3 linked regions of the Homo sapiens genome follow. The protein of the gene in region 2 purifies or fractionates together with the protein of the main gene of each other region. This does not show direct contact. Each region holds a gene or a part of one and is shown on either strand. Other genes may lie near its edges.

Region 1 (3,750 bases), on a different chromosome or scaffold from region 2:
CCTGTGCTTTGCTCATCTTCCGTTCAAACCACTAATCAGTCTCACAGCCTGCAGGCAATAGTAACCAGCCTGGATTGAATTATACTGTTGTTTTCATTGCATTTACTTTTTTACCATGACCTATTTATGGCAAGTGAAACTGCCTTTTCCCATTTTGATGACATAATGTTTCCTTTTAAAACAAGTTTAAGTGAATTTCCCACCTAAATCAGGCCCCTTGATTACAAACCACAGTTAAAACGATATGCTCTTCGAAGCATCATTTTGCTCAAGGGGATGAGCCCTAAAGGTAGGGCGCCTGGAGCTCTGAGTTCCAAACCCAACTCCGCCTCTTGTAACTGTGTTACTTCAGCCACTAATGGGAGCTGTGTCCTTCCCTGGAAAGAGGTCACAAGCAGGCAGCCAGTGTGCCCAGTTCGGTCTACAGGTGGGCTTTTACAATCTTATAATGAGTGCCATATTAAGAAATCAGGGCCGGGTGTGGTGGCTCACGCCTGTAATTCCAGCTACTTGGGAGGCTGAGGCAGAAAAATTGTTTGAACCTGAAAGGCGGAGGTTACAGTGAGCTCCTGAGCCTCTGCTGCGATTGTGGTGCCTACCCCGAGGGCTGCTGTGAGGACTGGACTGGAATTGGGTGCACATGTTTCCTAATCATTCTAGGACACAATTTCCCCCATCTGTAATCAAGAGAGGTGCGGTGGAGGTGCTCTACCTCCTGACTCTCTGAACCTTAGGAAATGGACTCCTCCAAGCTTCACCTTCCCTGTGCCCATCAGTAATCAGCTACCTTTCCACTAGGCCTCTTGGGCAGAGGCAGGACTTAGGCCCACAGGATGGGGAGCCAGGGAGAGTCTGAGTCAGGGACATCATATCGTGATTAGGAGTCTGTGTTGGAAAAATCATTTTGGGCGGAAGCATGGGTGGAAGGCCATCCGAGGGCTGAAACTGAAGATGGGAGAGAGCCTGAGGCTTATGTTGGGGATGAGGACGGAGAGGACAGGTGGGTTGGAGGAAGCAGATGAGAGTCCAAGGGGGACCTTCCATACCTTTTAGGAAATTGATCACTTTGCCCCATTTTCCGGCATCAAAGGGATGCAGCTTCTCCAGGCCCATGAAGGTGATGTTGTAGCGCGGCGAGTACACGATTGGCCAGCGTGTCTCTGGCACATGCTGGTACAGCTGGGTTGTGTGTAGCCTACCGTGTGGAAAAAGACAGACGCACAGCTGGGGCAGCCTCGGCAGAAAGCAGCTCCCTCCCGAGCCCGCCTGGACTGACCCACCAGCCATTGCCCAGCACCACTAGCCCCTCAGCCGCAGACAAGGGCCCCTCAACAACAGCTGCTTAAACTGGCTGCCTTTCCCGGAACCCAATTCCAATCCAGTCCTCACAGCAGCCCTGGGGGTAGGCACCACAATCGCACCAGAGGCTCAGAGAGCAGACCAGGTGTGCCCAAGGTCACAGTGCAGGTCTGTGGAGAAGCAGGCGTGCACTCAGGTGTGTCTGGCTGCAAGGCCTCCGCGCATCACCTCTGCACCGTAATAAATGCCCCCACAGCTGTGTGGCACAAGGCTTCGGCTGCAAAATGTGTGGCTGTTGTGAGGACTCAGAGAATGCAACTGAGGAGCTGAGCACAGTAAGCACTCAGAAACCCAAGTCGGGACCCAACCTGAGCCAGGGCGGGGGGCGGGGATCCCCTGACCCCGCTGCGCTGCTAACCCTTCCCATCACACCCTGGCAGTCGTCACCCAGAGACAGAAATCCGCCCCAGTGGCTGCCTCCGTGGGGGCGTCCGCGTAGCCAGGGGGCTGGGCAGCGCAGACGTCAGACCCGCGCACATCGCCCGACCGCTCCGGGTCCGGGCCCAGGCCCGCGGCCGGCGCGCGTCCCTCGGGCCACCGAGCAGGGGCGCGGGGCTGGCCTGGCGCGCCGGGAGGGCCTGGAAACACCCGTCCCGAGCGTCCCTCACCCCTCACCAGCAAATCTGGGCCCTTACCTGGCGCGCCCGCCCGGCCGTCCCCGCCCTCGCCCTAGCGCGCCCGCCCACCGGGACCCCTGGGAGCCCACCCCCGCCCTCGCCCCGCGGCACTCACATCCCGGGGCCGGCCCTCCCAAAGCTGGCCGCAGCTCCGCGACCGGGCGGGGCGGGGCGGGGCGCGGGTGGGGCCAGCCCAGGACACGCCCCCGGGCTTAGCCGCGTCCTCTGGGGGCAGAGCTCTGGCCGATTTGGCCCGCCCCGCCAGTGTTGCGACACAGAGAGCCTGCCCGCAGGAAGGCCACCCCCAACGCCCATCAAGCCCGAAGTCCCGCCTCCGCAGGCAAATACCCGGTGGAATCCCGCCTGGTTCGGAAGCTCCGCCCCCTGGCGGGAGGGCCAAGCGGGTTTCACCCCGGCCTCGCGGAAGGGGCGCGACCACCGTATGTCCTGTTCCTGCGCTTCCCAAGCTGGGTAGAAACGGCGAGAGGCTGGGGGTTAGAAACGACAGGTTCCCGGCGGGCTGTGCCGGGGCTTCGCTGTGTGACCTTGGGCTGGCGTCTGGGCTCTCTGGGCCCTTGTTTCCGCGAGTTAAACGTAGGGGCGGGGGAGTTTCTCTGGCCCTGCCGCCTGTGACCTAAGGAGCCCCGTGACCTCTCCGACCCGAGCCCACCCCCGGCCCAGTCTGCGAGCAGCTCCGGGACAAGCACTCCCGGCGAAGACATGTAGGCTCTCAGAGCCTGCGTTTCCCTCTGTAGAGCAGGCCTAGTTACTGTCTTCAGGGTGCACGCGTCTCCGTCCCCGACCCGCACCCTCACCGCCGGGGTAAGCTGAGCCAGGCCCAAGCGACAGCTGGGGTTGTCCGTGGGGCTGCAACCCAGGAGGAGGCCCCAACAATAGAGCCCCAGAGGACGGAGACAATGGGCCTCTCTGTCGGCCCAGCCGTCCCCGCCATCCAAACAGAAGCAGCTGACGGAGGACTGCCGGGCTGGGATCCCTGGGCTCCGCGGGGGCGGCTGTGTGCCAGGGCGGGGCACAAGGGAAGCGCACAGACGTTTGAAGAGGGGCCCCCGTGTGCCTGCCATGATTGCATGATGGCATCTGAGCCTCACAACCTAATCCTGAGAAAGGTGCCATAATCACCCCAACTTTATCTTGAGGGAACTGAGGTTCGGGCCTGGATTAAACCCAAACTCGGCCACCCGCCAGCATAGTGGCTTTGGGCAGGTTGCTTCAGCCTTCTGGTCCTTCATGTCTGCATCTGAAAATGAAGTACTGGGCCGGGTGCGGTGGCTCACGCCTGTAATCCCAGCACTTTGGGAGGCCGAGGCGGGTGAATCACCTGAGGTCAGGAGTTCGAGACCATCCTGACCAACATGGTGAAACCCCGTCTCTACTAAAAATACAAAAAATTAGCTGGGCGTGATGAAGGGCGCCTGTAATCCCAGCTACTCGGGAGGCTGGGGCAGGAGAATCGCTTGAACCGGGGAGGGGAGGTTGCGGTGAGGCCGCGCCATTGCAATCCAGCCTGGGCGACAAGAGTGAGACTCCATCTCAAAAAAAAAAAAAAGGAAGAAAATGAAGTTCTGGTTGCACTTCATTCTCTGGATTTCATGGGCAAGTCCAGGGAATCAAGAGACAATAATGTTGATTATTATTCAGAGACCATCTGTCATGTGCTAAGTTGAAGTCCAAATGCTTTTTGCTTGTCGAACTCTTCTGACAGTCCTAGGAGGCAAACTATTGTCATCCCCATTTTATAGATAAAGAAATTGAG
Region 2 (3,650 bases):
AGGACTCCACCAATCACTTGCTGTTTCTCAAGAGGATTAAATGCCTTCCAGCAGTGAGAAGCAAGCATTGTGGCTGTTGTTCCTTATGAAAGAGAATGTTTGGCAGCTTGCTAATAACTAGTAACCAGTAAGAGTTAGCAATGGGGTGGGAAATGCTTGATAAAAAGATTGAAGTGCAGTTCAACCTGAAAACTCTTGGTGGTTCTCAAACCTGGCTACCTATTAGAATCACCTGGTGTGATGTGTTGGTGCCCAAGTGGGTGAGGTAAGTGTCCACACAGGGGGGTGGCCTGGAACGGAGAGTGAGAACCAAGCAGGGAGAGAAGGGTGTTTGAGCAGAGGAGTGAGTGGCAGCAAAAATGACAGATCAGCCACATGCACAGGGAATAAGTAAAAATATTAAAGATAGTAGAAACCAGGTTTCTCACCATCAGAGAGGAGAGCTACAAACATGGAAAGGGAAAAAATGAAAATGACCTCCGTCATGAGGTAGCACCATGAACACATGGTTTTCATTCCACACAGAAATGAGCACACACACATTCCCTGGCTGTGTCCACTGAGAGCATGCAGAGCAGTGGCACCCCAATGGCAATGAGCACACCTAGCATCCAGATCTTGCAAAATACCAAGATTTAGACTTTCCACTAAAAGGATCCAGAGCTCCCTGGGGAAATGGCTGATTCCAGGGTTAGAGCAGAGGAAGAATACTATCTTGTGCCAGAAAGCAAGGAAACGTGTGAAGAAATGATGGGGATGAGTTAGAAAGACACAAGTCAGCTTGAATAGTCTCCCATTGGCCAAATTGGTAATTATTATTATTTTTTTTTGAGACAAAGTCTCACTCTGTCATCCAGGCCGGAGTGCAGTGGTGTGAACATGGCTCACTGTAGCCTTGATCTCACCAGCCCAGGTGATGCTTCTGCCTCAGCCTCCCGGGTGGCTGAGACTACAGGCACATGCCACTATGCCTTGCTAATTTTTTTTTTTTTTTTTTTTGAGACGGAGTCTCACTTTTGTCACCCAGGTTGGAGTGCAGTGGCGCGATCTTGGCTCACTGCAATTTCCGCCTCCCAGGTTCAAGCAATTCTCCTGCCTCAGCCTCCTGAGTAGCTGGGATCACAGGCGCCCACCACCATGCCCAGCTATGCCTGGCTAATTTTTTGTAGAGATGAGGTTTCACCATGTTGCCCAGGCTAGTCTTGAACTCCTGGGCTCAAGTGATCCTCCCAACTAGGCCTCCCAAAGTGCTGGGATTACAGGTGTAAGCCACCATGCCTGGCCTCAAATTGGTAATAATTTGAGCATCAAAATTACAGACCATTGCATGAGTCTGTACAAATATAAATACATGGAAAGTCTGATGAATAGAGTATTCACAGTTTCAAAGCACATCCCAGCAAAATAGTAATTACATTCAAAGAGGAAAAGAGTAACTTTACAGTCAAGAAACCTGGCAAACACCACCTGCATCAAATGACCCAAGTATGAACAGTAATGGGACAAATGGCTGCATGTGCCACCTGACAGCATGCAACAGACATAAGGAGATTGATGAGACATGAAAACCAAATGTAACCTGTGAGTGTGAACTGGGCTTTTTTGCTAAAAAGGACATTATTGGGACAAATGGAAAAACCTCAATGGGGTCTGAGAGTGAGATGGTAATAACGTGTAAATGATCATTTCCTAATTTGGATGGGCACACTGTGGTCATGTAGGAGAATGCTTGTAAAACACTACGGCATTTGGGAGTGATGCAACATTAGGTCTCAAGTGATTTGGAGAAAAGTTCTTTATGTTGTACCTCCAATTTTTCCATAAGTTTGTGTTTCAAAATAATAATAATAATAATAATAATAATAATAATAATAATAATCCATTGATAACTGTGCTCGCTTCAGAGAAATTAAATAAAAATCTTGAGGGTTGAATACAAAAAACAAAACTAAATAAAAGCAAAATGGGTCAGGCATGGTGGCCTACGTCTGTAGTCCCAGTGCCTTTGGGAGGCCAAGGCAGGAGGAATGCAAGGTCAGGAGTTTGAGACCAGCCTGGGGAATATGGTGAAATCGCATCTCTGCAAAAAATACAAAAATTAGCCGATGTGGTGGTATGTGCCAGTAGTCCCAGCTACTTGGGAGGCTGAGGCAGGAGAATCGCTTGAACCCAGCATGTGGAGGCTGCGGTGAGCCAAGATCGCACCACTGCACTCCAGCCTGGACGAGAGTAAGACTTTGTCTCAAAAAAAAAAAAAAAAAAAAAAAAGGCCGGGTGCAGTGGCTCATGCCTGTAATCCCAGCACTTTGGGAAGCCAAGGTGGGCAGATCACCTGAGGTCAGGAGTTCAAGACCAGCCTGGCCAACATGGTGAAACCCCGTCTCTATGAAAAATACAAAAATTAGCTGGGTATAGTGCATGCTTGTAGTCCCGGCTACGCAGGAGGCTGAGGCAGGAGAATTGCTTGAACCCAGGAGGCGGAGGTTGCAGTGAGCCAAGATTGTACCATTGCACTCCAGCCTGGGCAACAATAGCGAAACTCCGTATCAAAAAAAAAAAAAAAGAAAAGAAAAAAAGCATTAAAAAAGCACATATACATGCACACAAACATGTACACACCCAAGGAATGGCTTTGGTGACCTGCAGGGTGTGTGAAATTTTATTTTTGTTTGTTTTTGCCTGGAAGAGTGGCTCATTTTATGTTCTAATTTTTTTTTGTTGTTTTTTTTTTGGCAAGTAGAAATGACAAAAGGGTGGGAGAATGCCTCTTTATCCCTTTTTTTTTTTTTTTTGAGACAGAGTCTCGCTCTGTCACCCAGGCTGGTGTGCAATAGCGTGATCTTGGCTCACTGCAACCTCCATCTCCTGGGTTCAAGCGATTCTCCTGCCTCAGCCTCCCGAGTAGCTGGGACTACAGGCACGTGCTACCGTGCCTGGCTAATTTTTTGTATTTTTAGTAGAGACGGGGTTTCACTGTGTTAGCCAGGATGGTCTAGATCTCCTGACCTCGTGATCTGCCCGCCTCGGCCTCCCAAAGTGCTGGGATTACAGGCGTGAGCCACCATGCCCAGTCTATCCCATTTTTTTAGAAGGGATGCAAGGTTCTTAGAATGGGGGGAAAACGAGAAGAAAGCCTGACAGAAAAAGACTTTGAAAGAGTAGAATACGATCAGTCAGTGCTAGGTGCGGTGGCTCATGCCTGTAATTCCAGCACTTTAGGAGGCTAAGGAGGGCGGATCACCTGAGGTCAGGAGTTCGAGACCAGCCTAGGCAACATGGTGAAACCCCGTCTCTACTAAAAATACAAAATTAGCCGGGCGTGGTGGTGCACACCTGTAATCGCAGCTACCTGGGAGGCTAATGCAGGAGAATCGCTTGAACTGGGGAGGCAGATGTTGCAATGAGCCAAGATGGCGCCATCGCACTCCAGCCTGGGTGACAGAGTGAGACTCTGTCTCAAAAAAAAAAAAAAAAAATCAGTGAGAACTAGCAGAAAATAATGAGACTCAGGCTTGTGAATCTGGACAGAGCTTATCTTAGATGAGGCATCAGAATGCACAGTTGTCACACCTGTGAATGGAGAAGCTAGGCCTGGAAGCTAGCATGTAAGTGATAGAGGCAAAATGCACGATTACCTATACAAGCGAGGA
Region 3 (3,529 bases), on a different chromosome or scaffold from region 2:
GGCATGGTAGCACCATAATGGCAAGAATGAAGAGATGAAGAAGAGGGGGAAGTTTTCTTCCCTTACCCCATACAAACATTTACTTACCATGAGGTCCAGCTGCATGCACTCTAGATGGGTCACATATACGGCCACTGTGTTGCCATTTGTAGGGGAAGGGGTTAGGTAGTTGGCAGAGGGATGGGTTGGGTCCTTGGAAAGAGCCTGTTGAGTTGATTGATTGAATTTATTTTACTGATGAGGAAATTTCTTTTGGTCCACCATGGGGGAGCATAAATCCTCATTGTTTCCTCGCTTGCAGGGAAGATGCTGGGCCAAGCGGCTTTTGACACCCAGTATCTCTGCCTAGTTCTGCTACTCACAGAGCCACCCAGTTCCCTCATAGACCAGCTCACCTTCTGTGAGGCAAGAGATTATCCTCTTGAGAAGGTGGGGCCCGTGCATGTGATTCCTTCTAATGGAAAGGGCTGCCTTGCTCAGCTCCTCATGCCCTGCGAGACCAGCGATCTTCCATTTTTAATCCTTGATTTCAACGAATGGCTCCATGGGGCCTCCTCAGAGCCAGGCACCAACAGACAGAGCCCCGGGAGCTCACAGAGTGGAGGCAGAGGCCATGCGCTGAGGCACAGCCACATGGCCCAGCCCCAGCTAGCAGAAAGCAGCCAGTTCTCTGTCTATAGTGGCCAAAGAATCTTTGATCCTGGAAGGTTCCTCTAAACCTGTGGTTCTGTCCCCTGGCTCAGAAATGATCCATTGTGGCTGCTTATTAAAAATGTCTGGTTGGCTAATTAGCTTTCTTTTCTGAATGTCCATTAAGAGTCAGATTTCAGTCTCATAAGCGTAACTATCACATATCTGTGCGCCACAAAAATTCCGCAAGCTGTGACAAAAAGATTCATGATGATTGTGATAACGATAGCTGGTGTTTATTGATTAGGCACTCTGGAGAATCTCATTTTTCCTCATGACAGTTCTGGAAAGTGAGAATTACTTAAGCACAGAGAGTTCAAGTGACTTGGCCAAGGTTACACAGCTAGTAAGGAACGAACCAGGAATCACACTTAGATTTTGTCTGTTTCAAAAACCAACACCCATCATCAGTCCTAATCACCGTGCTGTGGCAGAGATGGCCTTTTACTAAGAGACTGTGAGATGTTCCTAATTGTTTTTTCTTTCCTTGTTCAGTGTGACAACATCTGGGGTGATGGAAAGTATGAAGAAAGTCAAGAAGGTGACCAACGGCTCCGTGGAGCCCCAGGGCGAGTGGGAAGGCGCCGTGTGACAGAGCCGACCCTGAGGATGGCACTGTCCAAGGAAACTGTTAACTTATTCATAGTCCTATTGGACAGCAGGAGCAGCTCCTACAGTGAACTATTGGCACCACCGACAGTGACACCAGGGCACATGGCTGGAGCACAGTGCCGCGGAAACCTGATTTTGTACTCTCTTTTATGGAAACGATCTGTGGCTGTTTAGAGGCAGCTGGATCCTCTTTCAGGCGGGAATGGGAGGGCGGGCACAGGGAGGAGGAGAGGAAGAGAAAAGGAAGAATTCATTTTTAATTTAGGTTTCTTTTTTTCTTCTTCATTTCGGAGCTCTAAGGTGTATGCAGTTGTGACCCCATGTGTGGGGAAGTGTAGCAAGGACGGCTGGTGGAGGGGGAAGGAGGGTGCGAGGTGTCTGTCTGATGCTTTAGGAAATGTCTACTGAGGACCCTGGGACTTAAGAAGAAGGGCGGGGAGAGTGCCATTGCCTGTTTGGGAGACAAAAATGAACGAAAACAGGTGACTTTGGAAAGCAAAGTCAAAACCCAGTTTAGGATGTAGCACCTGCCCCAGGATTCCTGCCCTCGGCTTTGCCCCAGACCCTTATTCCAGATGCTGAGAGTGACCAGGACAGCAGCTCCTGAGGCCCAGTGGTCTTCTTTCCAACAGGAAAAGAAGGCTGTGATGTCGCTGTCAGGATCATGCCCTGTGGCACAGCACAGGTGGTGGGAGGTGGTTTTCTGACTGAGATGTTGCCTGATGGATGGAAAGAAATGTATTTTTAAGTTCAAAAAGCATTATCCTGTGGCGTTGCCTGGACATCCACTCCCTGACAGCCCAGAGCAGCACTGTCTGGCTTCCCTTCATGCTTGTGGCTTTGTTGTGTTTGATCAGAATTTTGGGGGAAATGGAAAGTTTTCCTCAAGGAGCAGCTGGGGGCAGAATAGGTAGTATTTAAGCAAATACTTAAGTCCAAGCAAATCATCCCCATTAAAAAGCTTTTCCTGTAGGCTAGTAGGATTTCTAAATAGATGAATTCAACAGACTTGGTCCCCATAGTCCAAGAGTATGTATGTGAAGAAAGTGAGCATGATTCAACAGTTTCACTCTCAGGGATTTTAGGATGGCAAAATACTTCACAGAAACTCAATGATTAAGTTCCCTTCCACACTTCCAGAGCTTGAATGAACACAGGTAGCCACCTAAATTGAGCAGTATTGCAACTCAGAGAGAAAATCATCTGAATAGTAGGACAAGCTCAGAAGGTACATTGTGACTGAGGGCTTAAAAGGAGACCAAAACATGGCCCCATCAGGGAAGCTTCTTAATGCTTGGGGGGCCAGCTAGGTAGGGTTGCTTCCAAAAGCTGGAGCCCACCCCTGCCTAGGGGTTGTCAGAGAGCCACACCTGCAGGGGAACAGGTACCTCCGAGGGTGAGAGTCGTGGTCTCTGGGAGTTGTTTTCTCACCTCTGGCTTAGAAGGGTCAGGCAGAAACCACAGGATGTGGGGTCACACTCACTGTCCCAAGTTTGGGAACCTGAAAAAGTCTCCATTCAGAACATGGTTGTTCTCCCTGTCCCATGCTATCTTATCTTCCTAAATGACTAATGAGGAAGCGGGTGTTCTTTTTCTGCACTTTGATTCGCCATCTGGGTTCTGTAGGGTGCTCTGAAGGTGTGATCTGCCTTCTGGCTGATGTGGAGGAAGAGCAAGCGCCTTCCCAGGCCACAGCTGCTCACCTCTCGGCAGATATTTTAGGCAAGCATCCGTGTGTCTTCCCATCTTCAGGAGAAAGGTAAATGCACCCTAAGTGTTCACTTCTGGACCTTTTTCAAGTTCACTTGGGACTGTGTGACAGAAGGGAGTTGGAGGGAGGATGGGAATATTTTTAACACTTTGTTTTCCTGTGCAGAAACATAATACCAGTTTTCGCAGAAATGTGTCTCAATCTGTGACTACCAAAGCCCTCCTCAGTCCTTCCCTCAGAGGGACACATTTGCTGTTTCTCCCGCAAGCAGATGTTGTGGATGAGGCGATAGACTCCTTGGCAAGAACGAAAGGTGTGATGAAACCTCCCTGCTCGGAAGGGTCTCCGTGGAGGTGTCCTCATTTCACATGCTGGGTTTTGCAAGCGAGGAAGCCAGGCAGTGGAGGAACTAGAGAGAGGCAGGCGTGTGTGTGGACAAGCGCTGGAGCCGCAGCCCTCAGACTGGCACGGGAACGCCAGCGTTGGGTGTTCAGATTCCACGCGTATGTCTGGGCT

Evidence for each region.
Region 1: the proteins of SYAP1 (region 2) and HDAC11 purify together in Homo sapiens (co-immunoprecipitation; one large-scale study listed by IntAct). This does not show direct contact.
Region 3: the proteins of SYAP1 (region 2) and GPR107 purify together in Homo sapiens (affinity purification with mass spectrometry; one large-scale study listed by BioGRID and IntAct). This does not show direct contact.

What each region holds. Positions count from the first base shown.
Region 1 is NC_000003.12:13,478,691-13,482,440, reverse strand, and holds the start of HDAC11 (histone deacetylase 11), read right to left. Parts: upstream 2,136-3,750; 5' UTR 2,094-2,135; coding exon 2,092-2,093; exon of another isoform or gene 1,995-2,091; intron 1,196-1,994; coding exon 1,047-1,195; intron 1-1,046. UniProt on the Homo sapiens protein: Responsible for the deacetylation of lysine residues on the N-terminal part of the core histones (H2A, H2B, H3 and H4).
Region 2 is NC_000023.11:16,750,594-16,754,243, reverse strand, and holds part of SYAP1 (synapse-associated protein 1), read right to left. Parts: intron 1-3,650.
Region 3 is NC_000009.12:130,133,840-130,137,368, forward strand, and holds part of GPR107 (protein GPR107 isoform 3 precursor), read left to right. Parts: intron 1-1,185; coding exon 1,186-1,282; 3' UTR 1,283-3,529. UniProt on the Homo sapiens protein: Has been proposed to act as a receptor for neuronostatin, a peptide derived from the somatostatin/SST precursor.